Linked DNA regions of Homo sapiens. The protein of the gene in region 3 interacts with the protein of the main gene of each other region in a pairwise test. Each region holds a gene or a part of one and is shown on either strand. Other genes may lie near its edges.

The links.
Region 1: the proteins of DBF4 (region 3) and BLMH interact in binary tests that used the Homo sapiens proteins (3 or more experiments, as listed by UniProt).
Region 2: the proteins of DBF4 (region 3) and MCMBP interact in a two-hybrid assay, tested with the Homo sapiens proteins (one study listed by BioGRID).

The regions. Positions count from the first base shown.
Region 1 is NC_000017.11:30,281,901-30,289,012, forward strand, and holds part of BLMH (bleomycin hydrolase), read right to left. Parts: intron 6,048-7,112; coding exon 5,906-6,047; intron 5,003-5,905; coding exon 4,914-5,002; intron 3,581-4,913; coding exon 3,488-3,580; intron 1-3,487. UniProt on the Homo sapiens protein: The normal physiological role of BLM hydrolase is unknown, but it catalyzes the inactivation of the antitumor drug BLM (a glycopeptide) by hydrolyzing the carboxamide bond of its B-aminoalaninamide moiety thus protecting normal and malignant cells from BLM toxicity.
Region 2 is NC_000010.11:119,862,763-119,869,874, reverse strand, and holds part of MCMBP (mini-chromosome maintenance complex-binding protein), read left to right. Parts: intron 1-7,112. UniProt on the Homo sapiens protein: Associated component of the MCM complex that acts as a regulator of DNA replication.
Region 3 is NC_000007.14:87,872,385-87,879,503, reverse strand, and holds the start of DBF4 (protein DBF4 homolog A), read right to left. Parts: upstream 3,012-7,119; 5' UTR 2,772-3,011; coding exon 2,726-2,771; intron 1,452-2,725; coding exon 1,279-1,451; intron 1-1,278. UniProt on the Homo sapiens protein: Regulatory subunit for CDC7 which activates its kinase activity thereby playing a central role in DNA replication and cell proliferation. Required for progression of S phase.

The DNA.
Region 1 (7,112 bases), on a different chromosome or scaffold from region 3:
AGGGAAACTGACTTTGTGAGTCTGGGACAAGTTAGGCCTATCCTATATATTGTTTTCAATAGCTGACAGCCACTGCTATAGAATTTCCTAAGTCAATCATAAAGGCTTCTTTTCCCTTTTTGTGGCACTGACAAATATTGGTTTTGGTCTTTGATTGACTGATCGATTGATTTTAGAAATGAGGTCTCACTAGGTTGCCCAGGTAGCACTTGAACTCCTGGGTTTCTGGACTCAAGTGATCTGCCTTAGCCTCCCAAGTAGCTGGCACTACAAGTGTTACCACCATGCCTGGCTATGTTTTGCTTTTTAACAGACAAGGTTTTTTTTTTTTTTTTTTTTTTGAGACAGAGCCTTGCTCTGTCACCCAGGCTGGACTGCAGTGGCACAATTTTGGTCTCCACCACCTGCAGGGTTCCGGTGATTCTTGTGTCTCAGCTGCCCAAGCAGCTGGCATTATAGGCATGCACCACTATGCCCAGATGTTTTTTTCGTATTTTAGTAGAGACGGGGTTTTGCCATGTTGGCCAGGCTGGTCTTGAACTCCTGGCCTCAAGTGATCCATCTGCCTTGACCTCCCAAAGTGCTGGGATTATAGGCATGAGCCACTGCGCCCAACTGAGAATACATTAATAATCTTAAGGGGATCCGCAGGCTAAAAAAATGGACACTGAGATAACATTGCAATAGAGGTAACTACACATCTCCAAAACAGATCTGCCTTGCCTGTCATCTCAACAAGCAGCCTGCGTCTCACTTCTCAGTAAGAATGCCTTTAGCATAAACACATTTTATTCAAAGCTATCTGAGCTTCACGGCTGTTGATTAAGCCATCATTTTGACTTGCCTACAAGGTTACACAAATCATAGGTACTAATTTGGGGCTTTAAAACTGCAGCTAGACTCTTCATTACCAAAGAGTCAGGTTCAATGAAAAGAAGTCATTTGGGGGATTGTAAAAATTTTAAAACCTTATACACAGGGCCAGGTATGGCGGCTCACACTTTATAATATGCACAATCTTTGGGAGGCTAAGGTGGGAGGACTGCTTGAGCCCAGGTGGTGGAGATCGGCCTGGGAAATATAGTGAGACTGAATCTCTACACAATTTTTTTAATAAATGAGCTGGGCATGGTGGCATGCACCTGTAGTCCCAGCTACTTGGGTGGCTGAAGCAGCATTTGAGCCCAGGAGTTGAAAGTTACAGTAAGCTATGACTGCGCCTCTGCACTCCAGCTTGGGCAACAAAGCAAGACTCTGTCTCTAAGGGGGAAAAAACCCTTACACACAGAATTCTGTAGTAAATAGTTTAGGTAGAATCATTAAGTAAATAATCCTATAAAACATTCATACTCAGGATTTGGTAAAGTTGGATCTACTATTTCTCTGAGGCAGGAGTAGGGGAGGAAAAAAATATGTGAAACATATCTGCCCTAATTCTTACCAGCCAATTACCACGCTCTACCAATGATGAGGACATCAATCTTAGACACATCATTAGTTCAAAGATCATTAAAGCAAACATCAAAAGCCAAAAGGATGCTTATTATCTACAGCAAGTATTATCTGGGCCCTTTTCCACAACTGTTTGCAGAACCTTCATTCCTACTATACCTCCATCTTTTTTTTTTTTTTTTTTTTTGGAGACGGAGTCTCACTCTGTCACCAGGCTGGAGTACAGTGGCACAATCTCGGCTCACTGCAAGCTCTGCCTCCTGGGTTCAAGTGATTCCCCTGCCTCAGCCTCCCGAGTAGCTGGGACTACAGGCGCATACCACCACGCCCAGCTAATTATTTGTATTTTAGTAGAGACGGGGTTTCACCATGTTGGTCAGGATGGTCTTGATCTCCTGACCTTATGATCCGCCCACCTTGGCCTCCCAAAGTGCTGAGACTGCAGGCATGAGCCACCGTGCCTGGCCCCCACCATCTTAATCTAACCCTAAATAAAGGCAAATTATGTAGCAGATATAGCCTCTGCAAGACAGTCATTCCAAGCAAGAAGGGAAGAAGTAACATTTACAGAACTCCTGCTACGTGCCAGGCACTATGCCTTGCATGCTTACATTTAATCCTTGATTCCCCAAAAATCCAATAAGGAAAATATTTCAGATCCTGACTGAATCTCAGACAGGTTAAGTAACTTACCTAGGATCACAGACTGTTAAGTAAAAGAGTCAGAATTTAAACCCATGTATGTCTGACTCCAAAGCCTATTTTTTCCTACTATACTAAGATGCCTCTCTTCTGTAAGAATTTAAGAGATAAAAATGAGATTATTTAAATGCATTTGGTAAATGAAATTTCTGCATTCGTCCACTCAACAAATACTTAAGAAACAGCTATTGTGCCAAGCACTAGGCTAGACATGTTAAATATGAACTGAGCCTTTAGAGCTTAAGGAACTTGTCCCAGGATATAAAGTAATGAGAAGACTAGAGCTCAGATAGCCTGACTTCAGAGATTACACACTCCACTGCTCCACTATGCTGCATCTCTAAGATTTAAAGGAAAACACAAGTGAAGCATTAGTGTTTTCCATCGCAGTGAAAAAAAGTAGGCCATTTTAACTCCATACAGTCTTGAAAGGAAGCCTAATAAAGGGCCTACTGGCTGACAAACGGAAACATTTATTCTTTCCTCAAACCAATTGCAGTTTTATGCATATTCATTCTGGACATGGATAGTATTAATAATAAAGTTTCTTAACTGTCTTGATCATAAATAATATTACCACCTCATATTTTAGTGCTTTTTACATTTTCTAAAATGTTTTTACATACATTAACAAATATAACCATCAATAGCTCCGTCTTTATTTCTACAGAAAGAAGCCAAATGTTCTGGCATCGATCCAACATCCCTTACATCTCTGCCTTTCTAGCTTAATTTGCTACCCATCATACTGAAAAAAGTTATGTTTCAGCCACATGATTCCCTGAAGGTTCTATCTTTGTTTATGGCACTGTTCATACAATTCCTTTTGCCTAGAATGGTCTTGTTATCTACCTGGTAAATTCTGACTACTCTTTCAAGAGCTATCTTCCCTATGAAAGCTTCAGCTCACTGAGCTAGTCACTCCCTCCTCTATGACCACCAAATCAGTTTTTACACATCTAGCATAGGATTTATCATCATTATAGATGTGTTTTCTTTTTCCCAAGAGACTGAGCTCTTTAAGAGCAGTGACTATGTCTTTCTCATCTGTTTCCTCAGTGCCAAACTCATAGAAGGTATTTAATATTTATGAAATGATAAAAGAATGATTATACAGACCACTAAACTACGAATTAGAAAATCCAAGTCCAAGTCCTACACTAAAAGGCAAAGTAAGTTTTAAGCTCAGTTTTTTCAGTGTAAAATAAGTAATTTTCAATTCAATTAAACATTCGTTGCCATGACTAAAGCTTCCTAATCATTACTTTAACAGATGGGAATATTCTGAGAGTTCCTTAGAGGGGTCACAAAAAAATCCAAATTTTGTTATTACCTCCTCCATCATGACGTCCTGTGTGGCCGAGATTTCTCCTTTGGTTGCTCCACTGTGTACCAGGTTCCGCAGTCGTATACAGAATTCTCTCATCTATGACAGAAACTTATTCAGCACTCCAACAGTTACCCGAATTCAATTGTAAATGACTCTCATAGACCAACGCAAGTTCTATTTTGAGGTATAACTCAGGCCAGACCCATGACAGAGTTCATAAAGGCAAATGTGTTTTTCTTCAACTTGTCCACTTAAACACATAGCTAAAAATGCTTTCCATAAGGAGAAAAGGCATAAGTTACTCCTCCAAAATACTAGACGGAACTGCTCCTTCTCTGCAAACATCGCATAAAGGTGTTTTATGTGTCTGGGCATGGGGAAAACATGTGATCACATAATGCCTATCACTCAGAAAAAGCAGGAGACAAGATAATTATGCCACTATGTTACTCTCATAGATTTTTACTTAGAATTTCAATAGCTGTCCATTTTTCCTTCTCTGCCGGCTGACTATGACTATGGTTATGCCAGCCCCCAATAAAATTTTCATTTTTTCATTTCATTTTTTCACCAAGATAAAGGTGAGTCTGAAATTTAACCACAGTGCTAAAGAGGATGTTGCTCTGACTTCAAATGGAATCAAATGCCGTACTATTAATGATCTTTTAGCCTTTGGATAAGAATCCCCAGCGTTTCCAGGGTGGAAAATAGTCTACTTCTAATGTTGGGGAGACACACCTATAGTTGATTTTAAAATGTAATCTTTCTCCCAGGGAGATGAAAAATCCAATTTCAGCCTCATGGATTAGGACAGCAGATTCTGGCAACTCCCAGTTCTCAAAAACCATGCCTGGCTAGCAAAGCAGCATCCCCGTAGGAATTATAACTCTCCTAGGGAAAACTGGTTATGTAGAGAAGACACAATGATTCATTAAGATAACTGAAGCAAATAAAAAGCAGTTCAATAACTACAACAAATCTTTAGTGGGTGGATAAACCACATTGATGTGGTCTGGGGAAGTCTCAGAACACAGCACACTCTTTAAGGGAATCTTGCGAATAGCTCTTTTTGGTTTTACTAGCACATAAAGCAGTCCTAGCCCACCTCCACTAGAACCAAGTGAGAGACACCGCACCCTGTGTGCTTGTGGCCAATATTAATTGGACATGGGACTTTATTTCCTAACTATCCCCCTAAGAAAACATTAACATCAACAGAAATAAAAGTGGAAGTTTTTTAAAAGGAAAAACCCTCTAATATTAATTATTTTTAAAGTTATTAAGTAGCTACATTGCTTTTGACAGACATTGACATTGGTAGTTATCTTGTACACAAACTGTATACAGAGATACCCAGGAACCCCTTTTAAAAAATAAGTTTGAAGGAAAGTACACTAAACTCAATCCCACCCTGCTTCATATATTGTACCTTGTGATTCAGAATATCATTCATCCTTCTGGTTGCCTCTGTTGTATAAGATTCAGGGAAGCATTTCTTAGGGATAACACCATATTTTTCTAAAAGAAAACAAATTCTAGTGTTAAAGAAGGTAAAAAATTAGAAACCCTGGCAAAAATAGTGATTGTTTCAAAAAATAGGCGATATTTTGCTGGCTTACTTCAGAAAATCTTATACTTCATATTATGAAGCAGGGTTTTTTGTTTTTTGTTTTTTGTTTTTGACAGAGTTTTGCTCTGTCACTCAGGCTGGAGTGCTGTGACACGATCCTGGCCCACTGCAGCCTTGAACTCCCAGGCTTGACCTCCTGAGTAGCGGCAACTATGGTGCATGATACCATGTGCAGCTATTTGTTTTATTTTCTGTAGAGACAGGGTCTCACTATGTTACCCAGGCTGGTACTGAGCTCCTGGGCTTGAGCAATCCTCCTGCCCTGGTCTCCCAAAGTGCTAGGATTACATGCCTGAGCCACCTTACCCAGCCTAAGTAGGTTTTTAATGTGCATATTTATCTGTCTATGTTATCCTTTTTATCTACTATACTTTGTCACTTCTCAGCCTTTTGGTCAAGCTCAAGTGTATCTATCATACTTTTGTAAAGTGCTCAGCATGATGAGATTTCCCCAAAAGATGTTTTGAAGACATTTTAACACAGCTACAGTTTTAATGTGTTTCCTGATTACATCAATGGAGAAGAAAACAATTTTTTCATGGAAAATTAGTTCTCCTTAATACTACCTTTTCTTCTCCAACCCATCCTTCACAGTAGCTCTCTCCTTAATCCTCATTTAAGAAGGCACTTTATAGGTGAGAATGTGAACTAAAGGTCCTTAGAAATAACTATATATCCTTCTTGGAGACCAATTCTACTCTGTACACAACCACCAAAGAATTGGCCCATGCCTAACTACAGGCTTACTTAATCATGCTGAGTTTCAGTTCCATTAAAGAAAGAACTTTTACCAACAATATTAACAAGCATATCCCATTGGCCACCATCATTTGCAGGGTTCATAAGCAAAAACTGCACCAGCCTCCCATCCTCAGGCTCCTTTCTCTGGGCTGTGTCCACAAAAGCACTCAAGAAGAAATAACAGCGTTCAACCTAAAGAGTAAAGAAAGTTAAATAACATTAAAAGAAAAAAGTGTCAATAATTTTATTGGCATTATCAACAGAATGGGAGTCTTGGAATTACCATGGAATCAACATAATAGTTTTTTTTCTTTTTAAAAACATGAAACCTTCATGAATTTGCATGTCATCCTTGTACAGAGGCCATGCTAATCTTTTCTGTATCACCCCAGTTTGGGGACTTACGATGCTGAAACAAGCACCATAATAAGTATTTTTAAACTAAAATTGGTAAATAAACATCAGTATCTGACTTCATCAGAATATCTGAAGTTTCTTCTTTTACCTGTGTATGTATCCCAATATATTGTGTATATGTGTACAGTGTTTACATTCCAATGCTAAAACAAAACATTTAATGAACACCTATGTAATATATATTTTATTTACTTATTTATTTTTAGACAGGGTCATGCTCTGTTGCCTAGGCTGGAGTGCAGTGGTGCAATCTCACTGCAGCCTCAACCTCCTGAGCTCAAGCAATCCTCCTACCTCAGCCTCCTGAGTAGCTGGGAGGACAGGTGTGCACCACGCGTGGCTAATTTTTGTATTTTTTGTAGAGATGGGGTTTCGCCAGGTCCAGACTGGTCTCAAATTCCTGGGCTCAAGCAATCCTCTCACCTCAGCCTCCCAAAGTGCTGGGATTACAGGCATGAGCCACCAAACCAGGTCAGTAATATACATTTTGAAGATTAGGAAATGGAATATGGCCAGGAGTGGTGGCTCACACCTGTGATCCCAGCACTTTGGGAGGCCAAGGCAGGCAGATCACTTGAGGTCAGGAGTTCGAGACCAGTCTGACCAACACGGTGAAATGCCCTGTCTCTACTAAAAATACAAAAATTAGCTGGGCATGGTGGCATGTGCCTGTGATTCCAGCTACTTGGGAGGCTGAGTTGAGAGGATGGCTTGAACCCAGGAGGCAGAGGTTACAGTGAGCCGAGACTGTGCCACAGCCCTCTAGCCCGGGTGGCAGGGTGAGACTGTCTCAAAAAAATAAATAAACAAATAAACAATCAAATAAAATTATTTACTGTT
Region 2 (7,112 bases), on a different chromosome or scaffold from region 3:
CTAGAGGACACCGCTTTTTAGTATGTGATGCTAGTTTTTTTGGATAACCAGCTACTCACTGACTCTCTTTCAGGATCTGAATTTGGTCACTGTATCTTATCCGTTCTAGGGGTTTTGTTTTTGTTTTTGCTTTTTTTGTTTTTGAGATGGAGTTTCGTTCTTGTCACCCAGGCTGGAGTGCAACAGTGTGATCTCGGCTCACTGCAACCTCCTCCTCCCAGGTTCAAGCAATTCTGCCTCAGCCTCTGGAGTAGCTGGGATTACAAGTGCCTGCCACCATGCCCAGCTAATTTTTTTTTTTTTGAGACTGAGTCTTGCTCTGTCACTCAGGCTAGGGCGCAGTGTTACAATCTTGGCTCACTGCAGCCTCTGCCTCTTGGGTTCAAGTGATTCTCCTGCCTCAGCCCCCTGAGTAGCTGGGATTACAGGTGCATGCCACCATGCCCAGCTAATTTTTGTATTTTTAGTAAAGACAGGGTTTCACCATGTTGGCCAGGCTGGTCTTGAACTCCTGACCTAGTGATCCGCCCACCTTGGCCTCCCAAAGTGCTGGGATTGTAGGCGTGAGCCACCACACCGAGCCGCTAATTTTTGTATTTTTAGTAGAGACAGGATTTCACCATGTTAGCAAGGCTGGTCTCGAACAGGTGATCTGCCTGCCTCGGCCTCTCAAAGTGCTGGGATTATAGGCGTGAGCCACCGCGCCCGACCCAGACCCTCATCTCCAATGCTACTGTCAAAATTAAAGCCATCGTAGTCTCTTTCCTGGACGCTGGAACAGCCCTCTAACTGGTTTCTTGCCTCCAGTCTTGCTTCTCTTCCACCTGCCATACTGGAACCAAGTCCTTCAGTGACTTCTTGTTACCCTTACTATCTGATCCAGGACTTTTAAAGTGGTTTATGAGGCCCTTGTTGGCTCCACCCTTGCCTTGCTCTGAGACTTTATCACTGCGTACCCCCTCCTCATACTCCATCCCAGCCGCACTGAACCTTTTTTCAGTTCTTTAATTTTGAACCTGTGTCTAGGCCTTTTTGCATCTGCTGATTTCTTGTGCCTGATTCCCCCTCCCATCCCATGTCCACTTTTCTGGCTAAGTCTTACTTTTCCTTTGGGAACTTAAGTTAGGTACCAAAGTAGGGTACCCCTGCTCCATGTTACTGCAGGATCCTATTATATATGTCTTTGAAAAATAGTGTGTAAAGTGCATTGTTGAAATTCCTTGTTTCGGAAGTTCCTTTGCTGGATTTTGACCCCGCGAATTCAGGGCCCCTGTATCTGCATTATTCACCACTGTATCCTAATTTCTTAGAATTTGCCTTGTACATTGAAAGTGCTCAGTGGACACTTGTTGAACAAAAGCAGTGAAAAGACTGATTAATCAGAAATGTTGTTAATTGAAATGGCTAGTGAGATCACAAATCTCAAAATTTTTCTTTTCTTTTTTTCTGGAGTCAGTGTCTTGCTCTGTTGCCCAGGGTGGAGTGCAGTGGCGTGATCTCGGCTCACTGCAACCTCCGCCTTCTGGGTTCAAGCCATTCTCATGCCTCAGCCTCTCGAGTAGCTGGGATTAAAAGTGTGCACCACCATGCCTGGCTAATTTTTCTATTTTTAATAGAGACAGGGTTTTGCCATGTTGGCCAGGCTGGTCTTGAACTCCTGGCCTCAAGTGATCTGCCCCCACTTGGCCTCCCAGAGTGCTGAGATCTCAGGTGTGAGCTGCTGCGCCCAGCCTCTTTAGCTGTTTTCCCTTCAACTATTGGTTAGACCAAGATCATTATTCTCGTTATATTTAAGCTTCTTTGGTTGTATCTAACAGAACTAGACTAGCTCATGCAAAAAAGAGCAGGGTTGGGTGAAGAGGGGCAGAGCAGACTATTTTATCACTAGCATTTTAGAGAATTTAAAGCAATAATAAAATGAACTAAAAGTTAGTTGGTCTGCTTTTTATTATCACCATGAATCTAAACAGACAATCTGTGCCCTTATTGTCTGTACCCAGCTTGGACCTCTTCTACCACTCTGTCCTTGGTAGGCCACTGAAAAAAGTTAATTTATATTAAGGCTATAAAACCCAAGAACAGGGGAAGTGGTTGGGTATTCGAAGAGACTGAGTGGAATCAGGAACTGGAAAGCTAGCAGGAATCCAAGCAACTCAGTATTTCTTCTCTTGGGATACATTAATCTCTGCACACTTTCTCTTTCTCTACTCCATGTCTCCCAAATTTACTTGTTCTCGGTTCCAACCCACGCTAGCTAGCATCTTTATTTTCAGGCATAGAAAATCTGATTGGCACAACATGGAGTCAGGAATCCATTCACTCAGGGATCAGTCATCTGTGGCCATGGCACAGAGTTAGGTAGGACAATCGTGACTGTTATCCACACCTCAACATTGGGGGCGTTCTCAAAGAAGAAGAATAGCTCCGGCAGCCATGGCAGATGGCATACGTAGGAGTTTTTAAGTTATAATAACTTACACATGGTTTTAAAAAAAATCAACATGATGGTATGAACTGAGTGAAAGTACGTGCTCCCTCCATTGAAGTAACCACTTTTTTTTTTTTTTTTTTTTTTTTTTTTTGAGATGGAGTCTCGCTCTGTCGCCCAGGCTGGAGGGCAGTGGTGCGATTTCGGCTCACTGCAACCTCTCCCTCCCAGGTTCAAGCGATTCTCATGCCTCAGCCTCTTGAGTAGCTGGGACTACAGGCGACCACCACCACACCTGGCTAATTTTTGCATTTTTAGTAGAGTCGGGGCTTCACCGTGTTGGCCAGGATGGTCTCGACCTCCTCTGCCCTCGTGATCCACCACCCTCGGCCTCCCAAAGTGCTGGGATTAGAGGCATGAGCCACCGTGCCCTGCCTGAAGTAACCGCTTTTAACTGTTTTTGCTTTTAGAGGTTTTTTTCTTTGAGACAGAGTCTCGCTCTGTCACCCAGGCTAGAGTGCAGTGGCACGATCTCTGCTCACTGCAACCTCTACCTCCCAGGTTCAAGCAGTTCTACTGCCTCAGCCTCCCGAGTAGTTGGGACTACAGGCGCCTGCCACCACACCCAGCTAACTTTTTGTATTTTCGTAGAGATGGTGTTTCACTATGTTGCTCAGGCTGGTCCAAAAAAATTTTTTTTCTTTGAAATAAAATTCACATAACAAAATTTAACATTTTAAAATGTACAATTGAATTTTTTTTACTGTATTCATAATGATGTTGTGCAACCATCACCACCACTATCTTTTTCTCTTTTTTTTGAGACGGAGTCTCACTCTGTTGCCCAGGCTGGAGTGCAGTGGTGCAAACTTGGCTCACTGCAACCTCTGCTTACCGGGTTCAAGCGATTCTCTTGCCTCAGCCTCCCAAGTAGCTGGGATCACAAGCATGCACCACCATTCCTGGCTAATTTTTGTATTTTTAGTAGAGACGGAGTTTTACCATGTTGGTCAGGCTGCTCTTGAACTCCTGATCTCAGGTGATCCACACGCCTCGGCCTCCCAAAGTGTTGGGATTACAGGCATGAGCCACCACGCCCGGCCACCCCTATCATTTTCATCACTCCAAAAAGAAACCCCATACCTTTAGTAGTCTCTCCCATTTCTTCTGTCTTCCATCTCTGGCAACAACTATACTTCTGCCCATGGATTTACCTATTCTGGACGTTTCGTGTAGGTGGAATTATACAACATGTGGCCTTTGAGGTCTGGCTTCTTTTCATTTACCATGATATTTTCATGGTTCATCCATGTCATAGTATGCATCAGTACTGCATTCCTTTTTTTTTTTTTTTTAAGAGATAGAGCCTGGCTCTGTCGTCCAGGCTGGAATGCTGTGTGGCAAGATCATGGTTCACCGCAGCCTTGAACTTCCAGTCTCAAGTGATCCTGCAGCCTCAGCTTCCTGAGTAGCTGGGACTACAGGCATGTATTACCTGTATTACCACACCCAGCTAATTTTTAAATCATTTTTTGTAGATTTGGGGTCTCACTATGTTGCCCAGGCTACACTCAAACTCCTGGCCTCAAGTGACCCTCCCGCCTCGGCCTCCCAAAGTGCTGGGATTACAGATGTGAGCCACTGTACCCAGTCTGCATTCCTTTTTATGGCTGAAAATAACATTCCATTGTATGTCTATACTGCATTTTGTTTATCCATATATTTGCTGATGGACACTTAGGTTATTTCCTGGCTGTTATAAATACTGCTACTATAAACATTCATGTACAAGTTTTTGTGTGAATGTAAGCTTTTTGGTTCTTTCCCAGATATACCTAGGGATGGAATTGCAAGGTCATATGATAATTTTATATTTAACTTTTTGAGGAATTGCCAAACTTTTCCACAGTGGCTGCACCATTTTACTTCCCAGGTTCAAGCAATTCTCCTGCCTCAGCCTCCCAAGTAGCTGGGATTACAGGTACCACCAGCAAGCCCAGCTAACTTTTGTATTTTTAGTAGAGATGAGGTTTCACCATGTTGGCCAGGCTGGTCTCAAACTACTGATCTCAGGTAATCTGCCTGCCTTGGCCTCCCTAAGTGCTGGGATTACGGGCATAAGCCACTACGCCTGGCCTAAAATGTTTTTAAGAAAGGTTGTGTGAGAAGAGAACAAGAGGCACATTATATAATGTTAAAACAGTCAGTTCACCAAGAAGACCTAACTATATATGCACCAAGCAACAGAGCTTCAAAATGTATGATGCAAAAACCAGCAGAAATAAAAGAAGAAATAGGCAAATCTGCAATTGTAGTTAGATATTTTACTACTCCTCTCTCAGTACTTGACAGAATAGTGGGTAGAAAATCAAAAAGAATACTGAACAACACAAAACTACACAACACTGTCAACCAAGTAGATCTAATTGACATTTGTTTACCTAATGACAGCAGAATACACATTCTTTTCAAGTGCACATGTAAATTCACCAAGATAAACCACATTCTGGGTCATAAACCAAATAGTAAACTTTATATATAAGAAGAACACTTCTAAACAATCCATGGATTAAAAACTCTCAAAGGAAAGCTTTGAATATTGTGAACTAAACCAAAATGAAAACTCAACATACCAAAATTTGTGGGATACAGCCAAAGACATGCTTAGATGCATTAGCTGCCTTAATTAGAAGAGAAGGTCTCAAGTGAATAATTTAAGCTTCCACCTATGAAACTAGAAATGAAGAGCAAAATAAACCCAAATTAAACAGAAGAAAGAAATAATAGAGAACAAAAATCCATGAAATAGAAAACAGAAAAAAAAGAAAAAATCAGTGAAACTCAAAGCTCTTTAAAAAAAAAATCAATAAAATTGTAAACCTCTAGCCATACTGGCAAAGGAAAAAAAAAAAGGAAAACAAATTACCAATAGTAGAAAAGAAAAAAAGGAAGACAAATTACCAATATTAGAAAAGAAAGAGGAGATAACCACCGTAGACTGTACAGGCATGAAAAGGATAATACAAACAGCTCTACAGATAGAAATTCATCAACTTAGATGAAATGGACCAGTTCCTCAAAAACCACTGTATTAGCTTTCTATTTCTCCTGTAATAAATTACAAATGTAGTGACTTTAAAACAAAAGGTTTTTATTTACAGTCCTGGAGACAGAAGTCTGACATGGGTCTTACTGGGATAAAATCAAATTGTTGACAGGACTTGCATTCCATTGTGGAGGCTTTAGGAGAGAATCTGTTCCTTTTCTTTTCCTGCATCTAGAGTCTGCCCACATTTCTTGGCTTGTGGCCCCCTTCCGTTTTCAAAGACAACAAGTCGAGTTGTTCTCACATCTTACTCTAACTTCCTCTTTTGCCACATCCTTCCACATTTAAGGACCGTTGTGATTACATTGAACCCACCCAGATTGTTTTTTTTTTTAAGTTCAACTGATTATTAACCTTAATTCCATCTGCTACCTTAATTCCTATGTAACATATCTTTACAAGTTCTGGGGATTAGAACATCAGTATCTTGGTTGGGTGGGAGGGGGTCATTATTCTGCTGATCACAGCCACAAACTATCCAAACTCACCCAAGTAGAATAATATTTCACCTTTTACGTCTGGCTTATCTCACTTAGCATAATGTTTTCAAGGTTTATTCCTGTGTCTTCGTTGCTTTTTTTTTTTTTTTTTTTTTTTTTTTTTTTTTTTTTTGAGTCTGAGCCTCACTCTGTCTCCCAGGCTGGAGTGCAGTGGTGCGATCTCAGCTCACTGAAACCTCCGCCTCCTGGGTTCAAGCAATTCTCCTGTCTCACCCTCCCGAGTAGCTGGGATTACAGGCGTGTGCCACCACGCCCGGCTAATTTTTGTATTTTTAGTAGAGACGGGGGTTTGCCATGTTGGCCAGGCTGGTCTTGAACTCCTGACAGGTGATCCGCCCGCCTCGGCCTCCCAAAGTGCTGGGATTACAGGCGTGAGCCACCCCGCCTGGCCCTCGCTGCATTTTAATAAAGATACAAAAGCTAATTCAAATGGAAAAAGGATATTCTTTTCATCAAAGACATGAACAATTTAACATTTACATGGAAAAATAAAATCCTCAACCTTTACCTCATATTTTATATAAAATTAACTCAAAATGGATCATACATCTGAGTATAAAACCTGAAACTATAAAACTTTTAGAAGAAAACAGATCTTTGTGACCTGGGGTTTGGCAATGAGTTCTTAAGACATGACACCGAAGGCACAGTGCGTAAAACAAAAATTTGATAAATTGGGCTTCATCAAAATTAAAAACCTTTGTTCTGTAAAAAAAAATTCTATTAGGAGCATGAAAAGACAAGCTATACACTGGGAGAATATATTTGAAAATCCGGTATCAGAAAAAGAACTTGAATCCAGAATATATAAGAAAACACAGCAGTAATTTAAAAACTCAATTTTAAAAGGGGCAAAAGATTTAAGTAGGCTTAAATAGACATTTCACCAGATAGGATACAAGGATGGCAAATATCCCCCTGAGAAGAGTTCAGCATTGTTAGCCATTAGGGAAATGCAAATTTAAGCCATGATATTGCATATTAGAACAGCTAAAATTTAAAAATACATAGTGATAGTACTAAGTACTGGCAAGGATGGGAACAGCTGGATCTCTTAGCAAAATGGTGCAGCCACTCT
Region 3 (7,119 bases):
TAACACATTAAGATACTCTTAATAGGTGTATAGTCAATAGGGTGGCAGGCCTAGAAAACATGACCTTTAAGAATGCTGTCATATGATCATTACCATAAATACAACTATTACAAGCATGTGACAGTGTTTTAGTTTAACAAAATGAATAGTAAAAAAGTAGAATAACTTTTCAGAGATAAGTAAATAAAATATATTAACAGTTCCAGGAAACCTGTTAGCACATGTTCTTCTGATAAGTTTCTAGTCTGGGAATCGGCTGGGCCTGGAGGGCTCATGCTTGCAATCCCAGCGCTTTAGAAGGCTGAGGTGGGCAAATCACCTGAGGTTAGAAGTTTGAGACCAGCCTGGGCAACACGGTGAAACCCTGACTCTACTAAAAATACAAAAATTACCCAGGAGTGGTGGCACATGCCTGTAATCGTAGCTACTCAGGAGACAGAGGCTGAGGCACAAGAATCACTTGAACCTGAGAGGAGGAGGTTGCAGTGAGCTGAGATCGCACCACTGCACTCCAACCTAGGCCATATAGAATGAGACTCCGTCTCAAAATAAAAATAAAAATAAATTGAAAAGTTACTAGTCTGGGAATGAAAGGATCAGTTTAGACATTCAAAGACGCAGACCTTCAGAAAGTCAAAGTCCAGCATGAACCTTTTAAACAGAAAAAAATCTTAATTACCTCATTTGCCAAAATTCAGCCAATATCAACCTTAATCCTATTAAGGTCCTAGAATTTTGCCTGAGTTTTCTAATTTCCCAATCATCTAATCAGTGTATAAGGTAGGAAAGAAGGTATTCCAGATTCTTAATGCAAATTTCTTTTCCTTTAATAACATTCATTCTGTTGAAACAACATCTGTATCACTCAGGAACAATTTTAACTGTGGTTTGCATGGCTGTTCTGTAGTAACATTCTTAACTGTTACACTAGTCCAGACAAACTTATGTAGCTCCCCAAGATTCATAATCAAGAAATTGCTGTTATCTGGAGGACATTCCAACATTACAGTAAGCAGTCAATGAGCAGTTCCACTAGGACAGGGGAGTCTTACACTCTAAGAACTTTACACTAGACTGCTAATCAGAGAAACCTGAAAGGTCTGTCAGTCCACAAAAGGTTAAAACAAATGGTTTTTTGTTAACGATAAACAGCTGATAAAAATGTTAAGCTTGGTGCTAATAGAAGCGTTTTCCAAAATGAAAAATTTAAATGATTACACAGTAGAAAGTACTAGTTACAAATTTTTCCTTCTATGCCAGTGTACGGTTTTCACTTACCCCTCCCAGATCCTTAATGTCCTTTTGAAGTTTTTCAGATATGGTGACAGAAGGTAAGTCAAGGTAAAATACTTTTCCCCAAAGTGGCTTACATTTGGATTTTTCTGGCCTGTTATCAGTTTTCAGAGATTTCAGAGATGGTCTGTTTTTTTCATTTTTGACTTGGATTCCACCTATTAAAGATGTTTAGAATCAGATGTTTTACACAGACACTTTTACTATTTTTAAAATATTTCATTATACAATATTACAGAATAAAAATCCTTACAACCCTACCAGTTTAAGTTATTAGCATTGAAATGTATTTCTTTGTAGTACTACTTAGGATAGAGGCAAAATGCCCTATATACTTTCACAGACCGCATATTGTAAAATAATAGTTGACTCAGCAAGAAATATTCGTGTGTTTATTCCTGAGGCACGGAACTATATAAAACTCTTTTGAAAGATTTTCTTTTTTTAGGATGTAAACTCCATGGGGATATTTAATACTCAACTATTTATTGAGCATCTGCCATTCTGCTGAACATTCAAAACTGGTGTTTAAACTTCATTTAGCGATGAAAGAATCCTCTGTTACGCAGAATAACCTAGTCCTCAAGGGTTTCAGACTGCTCAAGTTTTAGTTTCATATAAAGTTTGTCTGCATATTAACAACTAAACGGTCCATTTCACATACAATTTGTCTACGTATTAAGAACTTAACGGTCCATTACGAAGAACTAAACCTTTCATTATTTTCATTAGAAACAGATCTGAGATCCAAGCAACTGCTTTAAAAATTAATTTTTCAAACGCAATCTGTTCTTAAATTGGTAGTTACTACACACACACAAACACCTGTACAAAAAACTTAGGTGCTGGAATGTTTCACCAAATAAAGTGACTGAAAATGGAAATTTGCTTTTGTTTCCCTGTTTGTAATGTTGAAACCAGCAATGGGGTGTTTGAAATACAATGCTTTCCCCCAACTTATGAGGAAAGGAAAATAAACTTTCAAGGGTAAGACCAAAAATCCACCCACAATCACTCAATCTAATCCTGAAGCGAAAAGCCACGAGCGCGTCTGACTTTAAATTGAGGATGCAGTCCGTCGCCTCCAAGGGCCCGGGCGGAGGCTTAGCATATGCGAGAGCCCGGGAGCAGACAGCGCCGCAGTCCCGGCGAGGTCCCGGATCTGCACATTGTTTGCTAGTTTTCAACCGAAGGCACGACCGGGAATCAATCTGGGACCGCCGCTGTAAACGGCAGAGCGCTCGAGGGGCCGGGTCAGGATCCGTTCCTTCTTAGGCAAAACACTGAACGGGGGCTCCTTCCTTCAGACCCCAGAGGCCGGTCAGAAGAAAAGAAGCTGAGGACCCGGCGGGAGAAGTCTGAAGAATCAATGGTGGAACCACGAGGGGAGGAAAGGATTAAAGGGACTGCAGGCGGAGGAGGGGCTTCTTACCCTGGAAATGTCCTTTACTGTGGATCCTCATGGCTCCGGAGTTCATGGCAGTCGCCCGGCACCTACATGCTGGGTCCGGAGAAAGTGTCGCACCGGGCAGCCGCGAAAGCACGGCTTCCCCCGGCCTGTTGACAGGACGGCCGCCTCTCTCCTTCCGCCAGCTACGGCCTCTACGCAGTAGAGGTACCGCGTCTGCAGGTCGGGTTTCCGGGGCCGGATCCGGCTCCAAGGCGCGGAGGAGGAAGGCGCAAAGCACAAACGAGTGGGCTGCGGCGGTTGAAGATTTGAAAACGCGTCACGCGGCCGCGGCGCCGATACGCGCGCCCCGCCCCGTCTCACGCCACGCGCCGTGCCCCGCCTCGCGCTCGCCCCTCGTGCCTGCCTTCTCGCGCTGCGCGCCCCGCCCCCTCACGCCGCCGTCCTTCTCGCGCCTCGCTCTGGCCCTGCAGGTTGTGTTTCCGCCTCTACCCCGCCTCCATTCCGTTGCTCTCTCAGTCTCAGACCCGGGCTCTCGGTCCGCCGCTTCAGGTCTTGGCGCAGCCTCAGAGAGTTGGCGCGGCTCTGTGTTGACCAAACCTAGTGGATGCAGTTAGCGCCGGAGCCCGGCCCCGCCCGTCACCAGGGTTATTCCCGCCTTCTAGGTTTGCCAGGACTGCCGGCCCTGCAGCTGCCTTCTGCCCCAGGTATGCTAATTTTCCACTGGTCGGACGTCTGGGAAGCTGAAGGCGAGGGGCTTTGGCTGAGTCCGGACTCAGCTCTGGCCGGGCCCGGGGCCGGGGCCGGAACCGGAGCCGGACAGCGGCGGCAGCCGCAGCCCCTGCTCAGCGCGCCCTGGGTCGCACAGCAAGCGGGGTTTTCCCGCGGTCACTGCCGACCCCACCGGCTGAGGACAGCTGCAGAGGGACGTGCGGGAGTGAGGGCGGCCCCGGGGGGCGTCTGAGGGAGGGTCTGGCCAGGCGGCCCCGGCCTTGACGGCAGCGCCACCGCAGAACGCCTCCAGGTCACTTTGTGTCCTTGGGTAGTTGGCTATTTGCGCTGTCCTGTTGACTTTTATTGTATTCAGACCTGTTTTCTTTTAGTTGAGTGTAAGTTTATTTCAACAATGAAGGAGTGGAAAGTAACATCTCATTTTTTTTTCCTGTAAAACAGAGATTAAAGATCAAATTAAAATGCTTGTGAATATATTTTAATTTTATAAGTTGGAACATGCCTCTCCAAAAAAAAAAAAAAATCTGTTTCTTCAGGAGGAAGAGGATATTTTGAACTATTTTGCATTCCTCTACTCCAGGCCATAATAGGCACTCCTGTAGTGGTTGATTTTTTTACCTGGTAGCTCAAGGAAGTCAGAGTATCAGCGTTACGGTTTTGCAGGTAGGTACCTTAAAGAATAGACAAGGGTGGGTTGTGACAAGATTAGCTGGAGAACGCAGAGAACAGGTTTGCTAAGGGAAATGAGAGTTTGGTTTTAGACAGGTTTATGTTGAAGGGCCTGGGGCGACAGTCATGGAACTATGCTTATTAGACAGTTAAAGATGTTTATGACTCGAGAGAAATGTCTAGCAGAAGTGGACATGGGAAGAGGAAATAGAGATTGATTTGATATCTCTCCAATAAAATATTTCTGCATCAAGGTCTATTGATGTCAATCATGGGGCAATTCATTAGAGGTTAACAGATCTTGAGTGGTGGAAGGAAGTGTAGTTTGAACAAACATATTCAATATTGTAATTTCTATGGGAAAAAACTTATTTTCAAAATATAAGCTACAGAGAGCACAAAATGTTTATATTTACAGAAAGATTTAAAAAGTTGGGAAGCACTAATATAGAATGTAGTTAAAGCTTTGGGAGGAAATGAAATTGCCAAGGAGAGCATGTGAAATAAGAGAATTGATTATAAGCGTCGTTGATGAAATAGTGAAAGAGATGGAGAAAATGCCACAGAATTGGGAAGAGACTGCAAACATTGGAATCATATGGGCTTCACTAACTACTTGGCCTCTGGGTAATTTTGAGCCCCAATTTTAATCTATTAAAAGGGGGTAGTACTTCTCAGGGATGTTGTGAAGATTAAATGAACATTTTTGAATGCTTAGTACAGTGCCTGGCACAGAGTAGAGCTCCTTAAGAGCTCCATAATTACTATCATTCTAGTGAACACTGCACCAGTTCCTTCATCCCCAGGACAGATAAGGTTAAGACTTGAAAAATAAGTATTTGATTTTGGCGTTTCAGGTATCCTTGGTTTCCTTAAGGGTAATTTGAGTAGGTGGCAGAGATAAGTACAGTACTAGATAAAAATTATAATCTTGAAGTTCAGACAGGTTGAGTGTACTCTTTCAAAAAAATTTGTTATTGTAGGAAAGTATAATGAAGGGAAGACTGGATCTTTGGAAGGTTTAGAGGATGTGGGAAAGATTTTTAAGCATGCTTCTATTGAGGAACTTTTTTTTAAAAAAGGAAGTCCCATTTTATGGTCTTGTGAAAGATGAATTGTGTGTCTTATTTGCCGTGAAGAGGAAGGACAGTAACATAGTTGCACCCTATGCGGTTAGACTCACCCTCGACTGCACTGAAGATGGTAATTCCAAGCAATAAATAAGCAGGAAGTCCGCTTTATGCAATAGTTAGTAATTTTCTAATCTATTATCCAAGGTTAGTTTTTAAAATATTACTGGAACCTAAATCTGTTAGTAGCCACAGAAAGGATATGGCTGTAGTCAGTAAGGATAGAAACCTCCTTTTTATTGTCCAGTAATCAGGTCTGTTGGTAAGAGGGTAGGGTTTGTCTTAAAGTAGATCTTGAAAATATGCTTGAAAACATTTCTTCAGAGGAAGGGTAGACATTTAAGAAGAAGTGAATGGGGGCAGGGTTATTTATGGTGAGAAACTTTGTTCAAGAGTTATATTAGGCAAAATTGGAGAACATTGAGCAGAATCATGATCTAATTAAATGAATATGTGGCTGTGAATCAAGAGAAATGAATTTTATTCATTGCTGGCCCTGTCCCTAACTAGTTTTGTGACCATGGGCAAATGTTAACCTTTCTGGCTGGGCACGGTGGCTCAAGCCTATAATCCCAGCACTTTGGGAGGCCGAGGTGGCGGATCACGAGGTCAGAAGTTGGAGACCAGCCTGGCCAACATGGTGAAACTCTGGCTGTACTAACAATACAAAAATTAGCTGGGCATGGTGGTCCCCGCCTGTAACCCCAGCTACTCAGGAGGCTGAGGCAGGAGAATCACTTGAACCCAGAAGGCGGAGGTTGCAGTGAGCGGAAATTGCGCCACTGCACTCCAGCGTGGGCAACAGAGCGAGACTCCCTCTCAAAAAAAAAAAAAAAAAAAAAGTTAACCTTTCTATGCTAGAATTTACTTATCTATAAATGAAGATAATATTGTTCAGTCTACTCCACAACTTTTTGTGATTATCAGAGACCTAATCTGATCTTTCAGATTACCTCACACATACCCAAATATAAATTTTTTGTTCTAGAATCTAGACAAATTAATTTTGTAGTACTTATCACTTTTTTTTTCTTTCTTTTGCCTAAGCCTCTTCACCTGGCTCAGCAATTATTTTTTCCTGTCCATAGCAAACCTAGCTTAGATTCATCCTTTATCTCCTGCTCATTTGGGTATAATCATTCCTGTTTGATTCATTTGCCAACTATTGATATGTCGTCTTCTGAAATGTGTTCTGATCTATTTTTATTAATTTTCACATTTCATAGTCTCACTATCCTGGTGAATTGGAGGGCTTAAGGTTATATGTAAGGTTAAATTCTTAGTTTTGCAGGCTAAGTGCATGAAAGGATAGGATTGGTTAGTGGCTGTGGAACTGTAGTTAATGTCTCAGGTGACTGTGGGCTGGGAAACCAGGGTAAATTCAGCATTATCAGGCCCTTGAAGACATCCTAAGTGTGTTCACTTTAAATTACAGGCGCCTGCCACCATGCCCAGCTAATTTTTGTATTTTTAGTAGAGACAGGGTTTCACTGTGTTGGCCAGGCTGGTCTTGAACTCCTGACCTCAGATGATCCGCCAGCCTCGACCTCCCAAAGTGCTAGGATTACAAGCGTGAGCCACTGTGCCCAGCCTGCATTTAATTTGTTTATCTTGCTTTATTGTACTGGCTAAATTCTTCAGTACTTTGTTGAATAGAAATGATGAGAGTAGTAAATGGTTCTTATCAAACCGAGGAATTTCCCTTTCATTGAAAAGGATTGAAAGGCTTGCTCAAGCCTTTCAGTCATGGTGGGTGTGGGATGTTGTCAAAGGTTTTCTTCTTCCTCTATCATCTGACTGGACGTTTATTTATTTTTTATTCTTTTGCCTCAAGGGACCAGCTTTTATTGTTTTTTCCTATTGTTTTTCAGCTTTCAATTTTATTGG